2 separate regions of the Homo sapiens genome follow, and region 2 is linked to region 1. Evidence: fine-mapped expression QTL. Tissue or cell type: esophagus mucosa. Region 1 holds a variant in brackets; the other region holds the start of a gene. All regions are shown on one strand. Distances are between the middles of the regions.

Evidence for each region. PIP is the estimated chance that this variant, and not a neighbour inherited with it, causes the effect.
Region 2: it holds the start of COMMD4, and the variant in region 1 is fine-mapped to the expression of COMMD4 in esophagus mucosa (GTEx, PIP 0.94).

The regions. Positions count from the first base shown.
Region 1 is chr15:75,359,955-75,368,330 of GRCh38, reverse strand. MAN2C1 (mannosidase alpha class 2C member 1) reads left to right here. Exons shown (of 26, transcript NM_006715.4): 2 at 133-258; 3 at 697-820; 4 at 1,739-1,809; 5 at 3,666-3,843; 6 at 4,143-4,332; 7 at 5,583-5,689; 8 at 5,878-5,988; 9 at 6,384-6,476; 10 at 6,611-6,727; 11 at 6,950-7,045; 12 at 7,140-7,285; 13 at 7,643-7,766; 14 at 8,120-8,241; 15 at 8,343-8,376. Among named protein-coding and RNA genes, the nearest start is that of MAN2C1, 4.5 kb to the left of the region's middle. RefSeq lists a silencer at 1-57. The variant G/A (reference allele first, on the strand shown) is at 4,710.
Region 2 is chr15:75,330,873-75,339,096 of GRCh38, reverse strand. It overlaps COMMD4 (COMM domain containing 4), which reads right to left and starts at 3,034. Exons shown (of 8, transcript NM_017828.5): 1 at 3,005-3,034; 2 at 964-1,035; 3 at 677-742; 4 at 412-451; 5 at 1-112. The coding sequence starts at 3,007. RefSeq lists enhancers at 2,641-2,810, 3,151-3,200.

The sequences.
Region 1 (8,376 bases):
GACTGTGCCGCGGAGCGGCCAGGCAGCCCTCTTGGCGGAGGATCCAGGGAAAGTGCGGCCCCACCGGCCAGCTGGCCCCCAGGCGGAAACGGGGCGGCCTCCAGCATGTGCCCACCGGCCCGTCCCACGCAGGCTTTTTGGGGCCAGCTGCCCTGTGGCTGTGCTCTCCAGCTTCCTGACGCCGGAGAGACTTCCCTACCAGGAGGCAGTCCAGCGGGACTTCCGCCCCGCGCAGGTCGGCGACAGCTTCGGACCCACGTAGGTAACGCCCAGCGGGTGGGCGGGGCCACAGGCCTAGGGGAAGTCCCAACCCAGCTCCCAGCCACACCTTCGTTGTCTGCCCTCTGCCGTAGACAACTACGTGGGATCGAGCAGCACCCTCTGCTGGGAGCAGCACCCTCTGCTGGGAACAGCTCTCTGGTCCCTGGGTCTTCAGGGGATGGTTTTCATTCCCACGTGGCCGCCTCTGGACATCCCTTAGGAAGGGCACCCTAGGGATCACGAACCTTTGACGCCTCTGCCTGTTTCCCTCATCTTGCTTCTCACCTTGTTGCTCCTTTCTTGTGACTCAAAGCTGAGTACCTTGTGACACTGCAGATGCTTGGAGAGTTTCAAGCCCCTGCCGACACTTTATCCAAGGAAGGATATCAGGATAGGACTTCTACCTCTAGGCCTATCACAACAGCTCTCTTGCAGATGGTGGACCTGCTGGTTCCGGGTGGAGCTGACCATCCCAGAGGCATGGGTGGGCCAGGAAGTTCACCTTTGCTGGGAAAGTGATGGAGAAGGTCTGGTGTGGCGTGATGGAGAACCTGTCCAGGTGAGGAACCCTGTCCTAGGGCCAGGTATGGCCACATTTCAGCCCTGAAATGACTACAGCCCTTCTTCTGTGGACTCTGGAGAAGCCACAGCTGAGTTGCTCTGCCCACAGGGTGGTATCAGGATTTCAGGACTAGGGAAGTTGCCACTTGGGCATCTGTGCAATTGGTCCTTAGTTTTTATTGTGTATAATACAAACTTATAGGAAAACATTTCAAACAGTTCTAGATAAAGTAATGGATCTCTCCTTATCACCCATCCCATTCCCCAGCTATAACCACTGTTAAGTGTCTTATTCATGCTCCACCCTTATCAGGTTTAGTCCTTATACTCCTATCTAGTAGGTCTTTATACCCATTTACAAATTAAGAAACAGATGTGTAGTTGACTCACTCAGGTTCACACAGCTTCTATTTCAAATTGGACTGACTCTCAATCTGGGGTTAAGACTGTTCTTCCTGGCTACAAGAAGGCAGAGACCATCCCTTCCTCCCTTCACTGGCTCAGCAAATATCTCCTGGTGTCCATTCTGGGCCATACCCTTAAGCACTAGGGTGTAGCAGGGAATGAGGCAAACCTGCCCCTGACTTCACGGAGTTTCTTTCCCGGTATTTATTTAGGGGTGCAGAGGCCACCAGAATCCACACTCAGGCTGCCTAACCCCTTCCCAGGGCCCTTCCCATAAGACCATGGGTTTGCCACTGGTAAACAGGGGCTATTTGACGGTCATGGTGCTGGCTGCCATGGGAGTTGGGGCATCTACTGCCAAGGGTCCCTGATTTGCCAATCTTGGCCCTGCTTGGGAGAGAGGACCCAGAGCTGGGAACCAGATGGAGGGGCCTGACTCCCCATGGCTTACACTTTACCTGAACTGTCCAAAAGCCTCAAGCCTTGTCTCTCTCACTCCCCTCCCTACTAGGGTTTAACCAAAGAGGGTGAGAAGACCAGCTATGTCCTGACTGACAGGCTGGGGGAAAGAGACCCCCGAAGGTGAGTCCCTGTGCCCTGGTTGACCAGTGCTGTCAGGGAGGGAGTACCAGTGAGCAAGGAGGAGCTGAGGCCCAGAGTGATCTCATAAGCCCGCCTCTGCTCTAGCACAATCATCCTCACATCTCATTGTTTGCTTTTAAAAGCATGATTTTTTCCTAACCATAAAAATAATGGGCTGGGTGCAGTGACCCACACTACCCTGGGAGGCTGAGTGGGAGGATCACCTGAGCCCAGGAGGATGAGGCTGCAGTGAGCCATGATCACACCGCTGCACTGCAGCCTGGGCAACAGAGTGAGACCTTGTCTCAAAAATAATAGCAATGTTTGCCTGTGGTAAATACAGGAAAGCACAAAGAAGTAAATAACTACCGTTATTCCACTCCCTAGAATAGAGATGAACATTATTAACATCTCAGCATTCATGTTCTTTTTTTTGAGACGAAGTCTCCCTCTGTCGCCGATGCTGGAGTACAGTAGCACGATCGCAGCTCACTGTACCTTCTGCCTCCCAGGTTCAAGCGATTCTCATGCCTCAGCTTCCCGAGTAGCAGGGATTACAGGTGTGTGCCACCACGTCCAGCTATTTTTTTTTTATTTTTGGTAGAGAAAGGGTTTCACCGTGTTGGCCAGGCTACTCTCAAATTCTTGACCTCAGGTTATCCGCCCCTCTCAGCTTCCCAAAATGCTGGAATTACAGGCGTGAGCCACCGCACCTGGCCCAGTATTCATGTTCTTGGTGTATCTTTCCGGCATAGTTTTTTTTGTTTTTTCGGGGGGGTTTTTTTGGATTTTTTTGAGACGGAGTTTCGCTTTTGTTACCCAGGCTGGAGTGCAATGGCACGATCTCGGCTCACTGCGACCGCCGCCTCCCAGGTTCAAGCAATTCTCCTGCCTCAGCCTCCCTACTAGCTGAGATTACAGGTGCCCACCACCATGCCCAGCTAATTTTTTGTATTTTTAGTAGAGACGGGGTTTGACTCTGTTGGCCAGGCTGGTCTCAAACTGCTGACCTCAGGCTATCCACTTGCCTGAGTCTCCCAAAGTGCTGGGATTACAGGAATGAGCCACCGTGCCCGGCTCATCCCGGTATAGTTTTTACTAGTTAAGATTGTATCCTGACTTCTTACATTCCATGTTATAACATGGACATTTTATGACACCATTAAAAACACTTCTTAGACATTATGAATGTATTTTATATAGATTGACACTGTTTCAGATGCTTTCAGACACTGGGAGTATGGTGGTGAATAAAATAGCCCTTGCCAACAAAGGGAGACAGATTCACTCATATAATTACAAAACTGAGGGCTCTGGAAGGAAATCCTGGGTACTCCACTGAGGAATTTGCTCTAGACTTAGCAGCGAAGTGGAGTCAGGAAGGCCTCCCTAAGGAAGTCGTGTTTGCTCTCTGAAGCCTAAGTATGGCATCACCACAGCCCAGCCTGTTCTCCAATGAATGGCCCGCCCATGTTGGCCGTGTTGGTTTTAGATCTTGGGTCTAAAAGTTTGAGCCTGGGAGATCCGAACATGATTTTAATATGCAAAGAGGGTTCCAAGACCAAGGCAGTGCTTTGCAAAGACAACTTTGGAAATATAAGACTAAACAGCAGCGTACTTTACATGGTTCCAAACTTTGCTACTTATTCTCTCTGACAGCAAGACATGGGATCCATCTGGTGTTTGTACCACAACCCTCCCACATGCACTCTTGTCACACTGTGGGATCCTCTGGGTAGTGGATCCTGGAAGCAGACAGGTTGGGCTCAGCTGGATGCCTCCTGGGTGCCCCTTCCCCAAGTCCCCGGAGTACTGTGCCAGTCCCTTAGCCTGAGGCTGTCTCCCCATCTTTGTAGCCTCACTCTCTATGTGGAAGTAGCCTGCAATGGGCTCCTGGGGGCCGGGAAGGGAAGCATGATTGCAGCCCCTGACCCTGAGAAGATGTTCCAGCTGAGCCGGGCTGAGCTAGCTGTGTTCCACCGGGATGTCCACATGCTCCTGGTGGATCTGGAGCTGCTGCTGGGCATAGCCAAGGTACTTGACACCCCCTGTACCCCCTGCTACCCTCTAGAGCCCTGCTCCAAGAAGGTTGTTCTTTGGGTCAGATAAATGGGACTCTGGGAATCCAGAGTAGGACGAGGGTTTCCACCTGCTTGAGGGTTGAGAGAATTTTCCTATGTGAAGGGGAGGAGGGAGACGGTGCTGAGCAGGGGGACCAGCAGGGAAAAAGGGTTGGGGGTCAGGGGAGCTCTGCTGAGAGCCCTGAGATCAGTGGAGCCTAGGTCTGGAAGCTGTGCTTGAAAAAGGGATTAAGGGGCAGAACCCTGCTGCAGGGCCTCGGGAAGGACAACCAGCGCAGCTTCCAGGCCCTGTACACAGCCAATCAGATGGTGAACGTGTGTGACCCTGCCCAGCCCGAGACCTTCCCAGTGGCCCAGGCCCTGGCCTCCAGGTTCTTTGGCCAACATGGGGGTGAAAGCCAACACACCATTCATGCCACAGGGCACTGCCACATTGATACAGGTAGGACAGCAGCTGGTTGGGCTGGCTGGGGAAGCAGGAGTGCCCTTGAAGACCTGGATGTGCCCTAGAAGCACTGTGTGATGCTCAGCAAGTTCTTGCTCCTCTTGGACCTGCGTTTTCCCCGTCTGTAAAACGGGGCCGGGGGGCTGGACTGTGGGCTCTGCTTGCTTTGGATTCACTTTTTTTTTTTTTGAGACGGAGTCTCACTCTTGTCACCCAGGGTGGAGTGCAATGGTGTGATCTCGGCTCACTGCAACCTCTGCCTCCCGGGTTCAGGCGATTCTCTTGCCTCAGCCTCCTTAGTAGCTGGGATTACAGGCACCCACCACAATGCCTGGTTAATTTTTGTATTTTTAGTAGAGACGGGGTTTCACCAC[G/A]TTGGCCAGGCTGGTCTCAAACTCCTGACCTCAGGTGATCCGCCTGCCTTGGCCTCCCAAAGTGCTGGGATTACAGGCATGACCCACCGTGCCCAGCCTCATTTATTCTTTCAACAAAATCTGATGCCTCATGGGGCCCATGCTAGATATTGAGGGTAGGATTACAGAGACAGATTCAGCAGGCAGAGTTGGTGTCACAATGGTGGGGAGTCTGAGGCACTGGAGAGCACAGGAGAGGTACTTACTCCAGCTGGGTTGGGGGATTCCAGAGAGGCTTCCTGGACAAGTTTGCAGTGTCTGAGTTTTACGGGAAATCCACATTTTTAACAAGCTCCTGAAGGTATTGATTCTGATGCAGCCGAAGTTTTGGGATCACAGAACAAGGGCTTTCTCTGCTGTGCCAAGATGTAGGGTAAGGTGTGAGAGGTTCTGGGCTGGTAAGGGAGGAACTGCAGCCTGGGAGTCAGGAGAGGCTGTAGCACCTCTGGTAGGACAGCTGGCTCCATCCTGGGAGCCATGCCTCTGTTCCCAGGTATACATCAAGTTTGTGCAGGGGCAGGGTAGTCCCTGCTACTTCTCGTAGGATCCTCTAGGGGATGTCTAATTCCCCAAGAGGACTGAGGCTATTCTGGGGCCTGGAGCCTCCATTTCCTGACCTGTATAATTGGCCTCATAGCACTGCCGCCTCCTTTCCCCAGCCCCTCCTCCCACCTCGCTGGAGTGAAGTGAAGTGACCACTTAGGAGGGACACCACAGGGCTTTCCAGGGTGAAGGGCCTGGGATGGGAGGGGGGCTAGGTGACCCTCTGGAGTCCCAGCCCAGGCCTGGTCAGCCTTGCTGCTCCCTCTGTCCTCCACCTCACTCCCCGTATAGCCTGGCTTTGGCCCTTCAAAGAGACTGTGAGGAAATGTGCCCGGAGCTGGGTGACCGCCCTGCAGCTCATGGAGCGGAACCCTGAGTTCATCTTTGCCTGCTCCCAGGTCAGAGGGACAGCTGTGAGGGAGGAGGGAAGCACGTGGCCCTCCCTGGAGCTCCACAGGCCCTGAAGGCTTCCCAGGCCTGGGGTCAGGGCTGCTCCTCACCCTCAGCCACACACTGAGTCCCATATGCTCAGTCCTGGGTGGGGCCCTTGTCACTCTGGTCCCAGCTCCCTTCAACCTGCCCACAGGCGCAGCAGCTGGAATGGGTGAAGAGCCGCTACCCTGGCCTGTACTCCCGCATCCAGGAGTTTGCGTGCCGTGGGCAGTTTGTGCCTGTGGGGGGCACCTGGGTGGAGATGGTAAGTGCACTGGGCACTCCTCAGCCTTGAACTGTATGACAACAGCCTTCCCTCAGGTAGCCCCGCCCTCCCGGCTTTGCTGGTGAGTTTCCACGGGCCACTCATCCCCGCTGTGTGGCAGGGCTGGCTCATTAGTCCCTGGGATCTCAAGGCCTGGGACTTCAAGGGGGAGGAGAGCCTCCAGCGCTGTGACAAGTTGCATGGCCTAGTCCTGGGCACCCCCTCAGGCAGATGGACAGTCAGGCCTGAAGGACAGGGGCCCTTCCTGAGTTCTGGCTGTAACTCCCATGTTTGAGCAGCCCTGGCTTCTCCTGCAGGGATTGGGTTGGCCTGAGCGCCTGCCTGCTCCCCGTCCAGCGCTGACCTGGGCTGCCTCCCACTTCCTTCACTGCCAGGATGGGAACCTGCCCAGTGGAGAGGCCATGGTGAGGCAGTTTTTGCAGGGCCAGAACTTCTTTCTGCAGGAGTTTGGGAAGATGTGCTCTGAGGTAGGCTGAGAGCTGCTACACCAGGCTGTGGGCGAGTGGGGCTGGCGCTCGACTTGGAGTGCTGAGGGGCTGAGGCTGGGGTGAGTCCGCCTGGAGCTCTGGTTCCTGCACTCCAGGATCCTCTTTCTCCACAGTTCTGGCTGCCGGACACCTTTGGCTACTCAGCACAGCTCCCCCAGATCATGCACGGCTGTGGCATCAGGCGCTTTCTCACCCAGAAATTGAGCTGGAATTTGGTGAACTCCTTCCCAGTAAGCAGGCCCCCGGGGGGTCAGGGTCAGAGTGGGCCTCAGTCCCGCCTGGCCCATTTGCCTCTCCCCCTTATTGTGGGGTCCTAGACAGACCACCAAACCCTCACTCTGCCTCTGCCAGGGTCACATAGCAGGCAGGGGCAGGACCAAGTCTGGAAGGCCTGGCTCTGCCTCAGCCCTGACTCTGGCCTCTCTGCCCTGCTTCTGTTTCCCTGCTGGTAGCACCATACATTTTTCTGGGAGGGCCTGGATGGCTCCCGTGTACTGGTCCACTTCCCACCTGGCGACTCCTATGGGATGCAGGGCAGCGTGGAGGAGGTGAGGGGTCACCTAGGGTGGTGGGGTAGGGGCAGGCTGGAGAGGGCTGGCTTGTTCCAGGCTGATCCATGCTGGCCTGCCCTCACCTGTCTAGGTGCTGAAGACCGTGGCCAACAACCGGGACAAGGGGCGGGCCAACCACAGTGCCTTCCTCTTTGGCTTTGGGGATGGGGGTGGTGGCCCCACCCAGACCATGCTGGACCGCCTGAAGCGCCTGAGCAATACGGATGGGCTGCCCAGGTCAGGCCAGGCCTTGGCTCTCCTTTAGCCCCACCCTGGGCCCTTGCCATGAGCCCTGCCTTCCCTCAGACATTGGGCCCAACCCCTCCTCTGGACCTTGTCCTGTCCCAATCCTAGACCACGGGTTCCTCCAAACTTCCACCCTGGGGGTGGGTGGGGGAGAAGCTGAAGCTGGTAAGGGCTCCAGCCCATCAGAGAGAGAGGCTCTCCTAGGGCGTCCAGGGCTGGCCATCTGTGAACGGGGAGCTTTCTGGAGTGGCTCCTCTCTGTAGGAGCTGGATCCTTTGCTTTGGTGTGGAAGAAGGGTGAGCCATGTGGTCTCCAAGGCTGGGAGACCTAGGCTTGTGGTCTCCTCAGGGTGCAGCTATCTTCTCCAAGACAGCTCTTCTCAGCACTGGAGAGTGACTCAGAGCAGCTGTGCACGTGGGTTGGGGAGCTCTTCTTGGAGCTGCACAATGGCACATACACCACCCATGCCCAGGTCAGGGGGAGGTTGCAGGGCTGTGCAGGGAGGGTGTGCCCTTGATCTGCAGAGGGTCAGAGAAGGCAGCAGGGGACAGAGCCCAGGCCAGATCTAGGGGAAGAGAAGTTTGGAGGAGAGAAGTTCAAGACCTGGGTTGGTCAAGAAAGCTTGAAGGAGGCAGAAACCCCTGAAGAAAGAAGGGTTTGGGCTGCGGGGAGAAGAGGGAAGGCATTTAAGGCAGGTCACCCGCCAGAGGCCTTCTCCACGAGGCCCTTGGTGAGTCCTCAGGGATTCTGAGCAAGGGAGGGCTTTGGAAGGTGTCCTGGGACAGCTAAGCAGGCTCCAGACTAATCTTCCCATCCTGGGCTCAGATCAAGAAGGGGAACCGGGAATGTGAGCGGATCCTGCACGACGTGGAGCTGCTCAGTAGCCTGGCCCTGGCCCGCAGTGCCCAGTTCCTATACCCAGCAGCCCAGCTGCAGCACCTCTGGAGGTCAGCCCAGTTCTGTCCCTGCCATCCACCTGACTGCTCACTGCAGTTACCTCTGTGCCTGCCCCTCCCAGCCTTCCCATCCCTGCCCTTGGCCCCTGCAGGCTCCTTCTTCTGAACCAGTTCCATGATGTGGTG
Region 2 (8,224 bases), 29 kb after region 1:
AGCCCCAGCTGCTGCAGTTCACTGGACAAGGATTCGCCATCGACACTGTGCTTGGCCGCACTGGAGAGGATGAAACTCAGCACTGCCACTGTGGCCTTCACATCGCCTGACTCTGAGGGACCCGTGGGTGGGGCAGGGGGTGTCACTGTGGGTCCAGCCACCTCCCTGTTGCCCTATTAACTTTAGCTCAAAGCCCCCAGGCCTCCTGGAGCCACAGGCACTGCTACTGCTCCACCAGGAGCTGGCAGAGGACAGGAAGGTGGGACTGTCGGTCTTTCTTTCCCTCATGCTCCTCCACTAGGGAAGGTAAGTTAAGGATGCTGCTGGGAGGGGTGGGGGGCCCCTCTGTACCAGGCACCAGGCCAAGTTCCCAGGGTTGCCTGGGGCCTATAGACTCAGCGGGATACTCACCAAACTTGGCGTCAGCCGTGAGCTTCAGGATCTTCTCATACTATGGGGAAAGGAGACCTTCAGGGGGTGCCAGGCCCCTGCTCACCAGCCCCTCACCCCCAGCCTGGATCCTGCGATAAGGAACAGACAGGCTGGAAAGAAGGAAGGGAGGTGCCCAGAGAGGTTGAGAGGCTGGCTCACCCGTCTCCCTGGGCCTAGTGCAGAGTTTCAGGGCAGTGGTGGTCATAAGGTCATGGGACAATGGGGTGCTGGATCTTGTACTCACATCAATCCCCTGTCCCAGCAGCTCCTTTAGTACCTGGCTGCAGAGCAGCCGCAACTTCACAGAGGACTGGAAGGGAAGTCCTTACATCAGCCAGGCTGGCAAACCTCACCCCTCCTTCCTGGGGACTGGCTCAGAGCAGGCCAGCCACTGATCAAGGTCACAAAGCATGGTAGCACAGGCTGAGAGCACTGAGGCCCTAGCCCCAGAGAAACCTCACCATCCTCTACACCCACAATCCCCACCCCCAACACCCCTCCTCCACCCAGACTAGACCCTGTGCACTCAACCATCTTGGCCAGCGTGCTGATTTCTGCCAGGACCCAGTCGGGACAGTCCAGATCACCACAGAACCGGAACCTCTGCAAGGGAGGGAGGCAGGTAATCAGGCTGGAGGGAGGCCTGAGGTGTGGCCAGGATCCGTGTGTCTCCCACACTGCTGCCCACCAGGGACCCCTGGTCCCCGACATAGATGGATACCCTCTGGCCTCTTGTTCTCCCCTATCACCAGGCTGTTGAGTAAACTCTCTCCCTGACCCACCCTGCCACCAAACCCTGCTCTGAGGTCTACTCCAGGCATTCATCTGCTCAGCAAACATCAATTAAGCACCTTCTCTGTGCTAGCTCCCACTCTAAGTGCTGGGGGTACAGCATGGGATAAAACAAAGTCCTGGGCCTCACAGAGACGAGTGAACTCTCTCCCCTCTTCCCCATACCCACACAACTCCAGCCACTCCAGCTTCCCTGCTGCTGCTGGGGCACACCAGCCTTGCTCCCGCCTCCATGCCTGCTGCACTCTCTGTGTGGCTTGCTATCCTTTTTTTTTTTTTTTTGAGACAGTTTCACTCTTGTTCCCCAGGCTGGAGTGCAATGGCGCGACCTCGGCTCACTGCAACCTCCGCTTCCCAGGTTCAAGTGATTCTCCTGCCTCAGCCTCCCAAGTAGCTGGGATTACAGGCATGTGCCACCACACTCGGCTAATTTTGTATTTTTAGTAGAGACAGAGTTTCACTATGTTAGCCAGGCTGGTCTTGAACTCCTGACCTCAAGTGATCCGTCCCCCTCAGCCTCCCAAAGTGCTGGGATTACAGGCGTGAGCCACGGCGCCTGGCCAGTGGCTTGCTATCCTTTAAGTGACACATCAGACCAGCCCTTCTTTTTTTAAAAAATAAAAAAATAAGACAGAGTCTCCCTCTGTTGCCCAGGCTGGAGTGCCATGGCCATGCTGGTCTCGAACTCCTGACCTCAGGTGATCCACCCTCTTCACTCTCCCAAAGTGCTAGGATTACAGGCATGAGCCACCGCACCCAGCCAGAACAGCCTTTCTTGATTATACTTCTTAAAATAGCCCCTCACACAAGGAAATTATGGAGGCCAGTGGATACGTTCATTATCTTGATTGTGGTGATCCAAGAGCCAGGAAGATTTGTTCTCTACTTGTCCAGCCTCATCTTTCCCTAACCTGCAGATGATACTCTCCCAGCTATGGGAAATGCATCCATTCCTGGGGAGCCATACTCTCTCTAACCTGAAGTCTCTGCACATGCTGTTCCCTGTCTGAAGACACACGTCTCCCACCCTTGCCTCCCTACCCCTGGTACACAAACTGTACTTCAGCCAGCCAGCTCCTGCCATCCATCCGCCTTTAAGTTTGATGGCATCCTTAGGAAGCCCCCTTAGCACTACACACAAGGCGCAGTTAGGTCTCTGCCCCTGGAGCCTTAGCTATGACTCCAATTCAAGCCTCCGATTTCCCCTTCCCTTGGCAGCTCAAGTCCTCCCAGTGCCTAGCACACTTCATGGTATAGACCAGGCGCTTAGAACGTACGGATGGATGGATTGGATGGATGGATGGATAAGTCTCAACCCCAAAACTACTACTTTCTGGCTCTGGAAAGAGCGGAGGGGCTTCCTAACAGTGTGGAAGAGTGAGCCTGATTCTAAGCACCTTCTTGTACAAGCCCCACGGCAGGGCTGGGGAAGGGGGTATCCTTGGGAGGTCCTCTTGGGGATGGGGAAGACCTGAAAGGACTCCCAGCTCCAGACAAGCCCTAGTTCCTGCCCCGGGAGGCAGGGGCCCTTCCTTCCGCCAGGGAAGCACCGGGACTCTAAGCCGGCCGGCCTGCTCTGTCTTACCCGCCCCGTACCCCCGCCCCCGTCTCGGGAGCGGGAGAGTGGTGGACTTTTCCCTACCAGACTCACAGCCCTCACGCCCGCACACACTGTGTTTGCGGAGAGGCCAGTACAACCTCCCCCAGTTTCCGGAGCCACTTGGCGCCCCCTCATTCCCGCTCCAGCAGCCCAAGCCTCGCTTCGCCCCTAGTGCCTCACCATCGCGCCAAGAAGCCAGGGCCCGGGAATTTCTTTTTCCGGTCCCGCAGGGTCAGCTGAGTCGACGATCACGTGACTTGGACTAACTGCCTCTGGGAGGGCGGGGCCTGCTCGAGTGAGGCCGGGAGCGGACCGCAGCCCGCTGGAGGTGCAGGGGGCGAAATGCTGGCGTCTCCTCCTCCGTCTCCCAGAATCCTTCCCTGGAAAAAACTGGCGCCAACCGCCAGTTTAACTGAGGACCGAATTAAGACATTAGGAAAGACAGTGGAAGTTATTTCATTTGTTTAACTTAAGGGGGTAGGATCCCGGGAGCCAGGGTGTTTCAGGTCATTGACACGTTTTCCACTGTTAAGCGAATAGCATTATTCACAGCTGCGGGCTGTGGCAAAAGACATTTTAAAAACTATTGACGTCTACTACACATACAGAAAATTGTACCTATTATAAAGCTTAATAAGTTTTCATCAACTGTACACCTCACATAACCAGCACCCAGGTAAGGAAATAAACCAGATAACTTCTTCAAGTGCATGGGTATTTTATTTCATTTTGATGAATCATCTAGGTGCCTAGCAAAAAGGGCTGTCATAATTACTTGCTCAGGAAAACTCCCTACAGCTTCAACATCAATAGATGCTTATCTTAATTTTTGCCAGTCTGATGGGGAAGAAAAATCGGTTGCTTAGGTTGCAGTGGTAGTCTGATTACTGGTAGCTCTGAGCTAATGGGTAGTCTAGAACAACTAAGTTTCCGACATTGACTTGAAGAGGCAAAAACAAAAAGACAAAACAACAAGAAAAATACATTTGAGAATAGACTAATAACCAGAGACAAAATTGAATACAGTCGTCCTTTGGTAACCTCAGGATGTTGGTTCCAGGACCCCAGAGATACCAAAATTCACAGATACTCAAGTCCCTGATATAATATGGCATAGTATTTGCAAATAACCTGTGCACATCCTTCCGTATACTTTAAATCATCTCTAGATTACTATAATACCTAATACAACGTAAATGCTTTGTAAATAGCTGTTATAAAGTTTTTTAATTTTTTTTTTTGAGACGGAGTCTTGCTCTGTTGCCCAGGCTGGAGTGCAGTGGCGCGATCTCCACTCGCTGCCAGCTCTGCCACCCGGGTTCACGCCATTCTCCTGCCTCAGCCTCCCGAGTAGCTGGGACTACAGGCGCCCGCCACTGCACCCGACCTGTGTTTTTTTATTGTTTTACTTTTTCCAAATATTTTCGATGCACAGTTGGTTAAATCCAAGGATCCAGAACCTCAGGATACAGAGGGCTGACTGTAGTTTGAGCTCTCTCCTCAATTCCATGCCTATCCCATGCAACAGGTGCAGCTGGTTTTATTGTTGCAGGCTTTCAGGTTTTTAAAAGACAGAGCCCATGACAATTAAACTGCACTATAAAATAGAAATGTAAAGTGTCCCCAATTCATGGTAAAATTGAGCTCATTTCTGAAGAGTTCTTTTACAAATCATAACCACTAGCCTGTTGAAAACAACAGTACGTTAAGTTACTAGACTATCCTAAACCATGTCAAAAAAATTTTTTAAGAATGTTAAGACCTTTAATCATAGCACTTTGGTAGGCCAAGGCCGGTGGATCGCTTGAGCCCAGGAGTTCTAGACCAGCTTGTGCAACATAGGGAGACCCCAGTCTCTACAAAAAATTACCCGCTTGTCCTGGTGCACACGTGTTGTCCCAGCTACCTAAGAGGCTGAGGTCAGAGGATCTCTTGAGCCTGGGAGGTGGAGGCTGCAGTGAACCATGATGGCACCACTGTACTCCATCCATCCTGAGCAACAGAAGGAGACCATCTCAGAAAAATAAAATAAAATAAAAATAAATAAATAAATAAATAAATAAATAAATAAAGGCTGGGCACGGTGGCTCATGCCTGTAATCCTAGCACTTTGGGAGGCCGAGGCAGGCAGATCACCTGAGGTCAGGAGTTCGAGAGCGGTGGCCTGGCTAACATGGCAAAACCTGTCTCTACTGAAAAAAAACAAAAAAAATTAGCAGGGTGTGGTAGTGGGTGCCTGTAATCCCAGCCAGTCAGGAGGCTGAGGCATGAGAATCGCTTGAACGCGGGAGGTGGAGGCTGCAGTGAGCCGAGATTGCACCGCTGCATTTCAGTCAGCTTGGGCAACAGTGTGAGACTCCGTCTCAAAAAAAAAAAAAAAAAAAAGATGATTTGACTATTTAGAGCCGTGGTTCTCACACATTAGAGTGCATCATCATCACCTGCAGGGCTTGTGAAACCGGCTGCTGGGCCTCACACCAGAGTTTCTAACTCAATAGGACTGAGGTGGGGCCTGAGCATTGCGTGTCTATATTCCCAGGTGACATTTGAGACCATGCTTTGAAAACCACTAGTGTAGGGAAATATACTACAGAATATGTTATGAATATTCTTGAGAATATGTATATATGTTAACTTAGGGTTTCTGTCCAGTGGAAAAGATAACACCCAAAGATGGCAGTTTTATTTCCCAATATGATTTTCTTTTTTTTTTTTGAAATGGAGTCTCGCTCTGTCACCCAGGCTGGAGTGCAGTGGCGCCATCTTGGCTCACTGCAACCTCCACCTCCTGGGTTCACGCCATTCTCCTGCCTTAGCCTCCCGAGCAGCTGGGACCACAGGCGCCCGCCACCACGCCGGGCTAATTTTTTTATATTTTTAGTAGAGACGGGGTTTCACCGTGTTGGCCAGGATGGTCTCAATCTCCTGACCTCGTGATCCGCCCGCCTCGGCCTCCCAAAGTGCTGGGATTACAGGCGTGAGCCACTGCGCTCGGCCCCCCTTTTTTTTTTGAGACGGAATTTAATTCTGCCGCCCAGGCTGGAGTGCAGTGGCACAATCTCAGCTCACTACAACCTCCGCCTCCAGGGTTCAAGCGATTCTCTTGCCTCAGCCTCCTGAGTAGCTGGGACTACAGGTGACCACCACTGCACCTGGCTAATTTTGTATTTTTAGTAGAGACAGGGTTTCAACATGTTGGCCAGGCTGGTCTTGAACTCCTGACCTCAGGTCATCCGCCTGCCTTGACCTCCCAAAGTGCTGGGATTACAGGTGTGAGCCACCATGCCTGACCTCCCTATAGGATATTAACAAGTTTTGTCTCTATCTCAGAATACATTTCAGAATGCCCTTCCTGGAGCATTACAGACACTGTCTCTCAAAAAGCTCCTTGAACTTGCTTCACCATGTTGCTAACTCCCTTGTGAATTAAAGAAAATATCTTATACATATTCCTTCATTATTTGTATGAAAGTCATGCTTTTAACATTGTAAAAATTATTCTTCAGGCTGGGTGCGGTGGCTCATGCCTGTAATCTCAGCACTTCGGAAGGCCAAAGTGGCGGGATCACGTGAGGCCAGAAGTTTGACACCAGCCTGGCCAACATGGTGAAACTCCGTCTCTACTAAAAAAAAAAATCAAAATTAGCTAGGGGGTGCACACACCTGTAGTTCCAGCTACTTAGGAAGCTGAGGCACAAGAATTGCTTGAACCTAGGAGATGGAGGTTGCAGTTAGCTGAGGTCGTGCCACTGCACTCCAGCCAGAGCCAGACCGAGACTCTATCTCAAAGAAAAAAAAAGAAAGAAAATTATACTTCGATACAGTATGCTAATATAAAGGATATAATCTGGTTTGGCTGTGTGTCCCCATCCAGATCTCACCTTGAATTGCAATAATCCCCACGTGTCAAGGGTGGGACCAGGTGGAGATAATTGAATCATGGGGGCGGTTTCTCCCATGCTGTTCTCGTGATGGTGAATGAGTTATCACGAGATCTGATGGTTTTATAACAGGCTTTCTCCTTTGATTCGCTCTCCTTCTCTCCTGCTGCCCTGGGAAGAGGTATCTTCTGCCATAATTGTAAGTTTCCTGAGGCCTCCCCAGCCATGCAGAACTGTGAGTCAACTTAAACATCTTTTCTTTATAAACTACTCAGTCTTGGGTATTTCTTCATAGCGGAGTGAGAATGGACTAATACAGTGTACTAATAACAGCCCAGACAGTAGTATACAGGTACTACTATACTTTGATGCTAGAGGTATTCCCATTAAGGTCAGGAGCAGTATGCGCTATCATTACCATGATCTAACATTGTTCCAGAGGGTTTTAGGTCAGCAGTTCTCAACTGGAGGTGATTTTGCCGCCCTGGGGATATTTGACAGTATCTGAAATCACTTTGGCTGTCACACTGAGGAGTGCTGCTGGCATGTGGCAGGCGGAGGCTGGGGATGCTGCTAAACATCCTGCGAGGCGCAAACAGCTCCAGAACAGAGAACTGTCCAGCCCTAAACATCAACAGTGCTGCTGTGGAGAAAGCCTGGTCTAGACAAATAAAACATGGGAAATCCATTAACATACATGTGGGTGGATAATCAACTGGCATTTGCCAATGGCAGTCTAGCTAGGAGGTCCAAAAGGAGCACCTGAAGGACAGTTAGATTTTGCAGGGGCTGCATGGTGGCTCATGCCTGCAACCCCAGTGCATTGTGAGGTCGCATTGGGAATATCTCTTGAGGCCAGGCGTTCAAGACCAGCCTGGGCAACATAGTGAGACCGCATCTCTACTAAAAATTAAAACATCAGCCAGATATGGTGCTGCGCTCTGATAGTCCCAGCTGCTGAAGTGGGAGTATCGCTTGAGCCCAGGAGTTGGAGGCTATGGTGAGCTGTGATCATGGCACTGCACTTGGAAAAGATATTTTTTGAGCCAGGGTCTTTCTCTGTTGTATCCTGGGTCTTGCTATGTTGCCTGGGCTGGTCCTGAACTCCTGGCCTCAAGCAGACTTCCTGCCTCAGCCTCCAAAAGTGTTGAGATTACAGGCATGAGCCACTGCCCCTGGCCTTACAAAATAAAAAAATAAGCTGCAGGATGTTATGTGTCCCGTTGAAAGATGTTGGAAAACAGTTGTGCATGTGACCCCGCTGTAACCAGTTATAAAAGTATCAGGATCATTAAGAAATGTACTGCGTCTGGCTTTCCCAAGTTTAGGTTCCTGCTGAAAGAATGAGATAGACCTTTTCTTCCTCCCCTCCTCACCTCCCTGCAAGAACCTGGACTGTGCATTTTGATGGGCAGGCTCTTACCTCTGACAGGCCACGGGGGCCTGCAGAGCCTTTCTGTGTGTGTTTTCTGGGCACTTGGATAAAGACCCCATGTCCAGGCCTTTGTTTAGGATATTT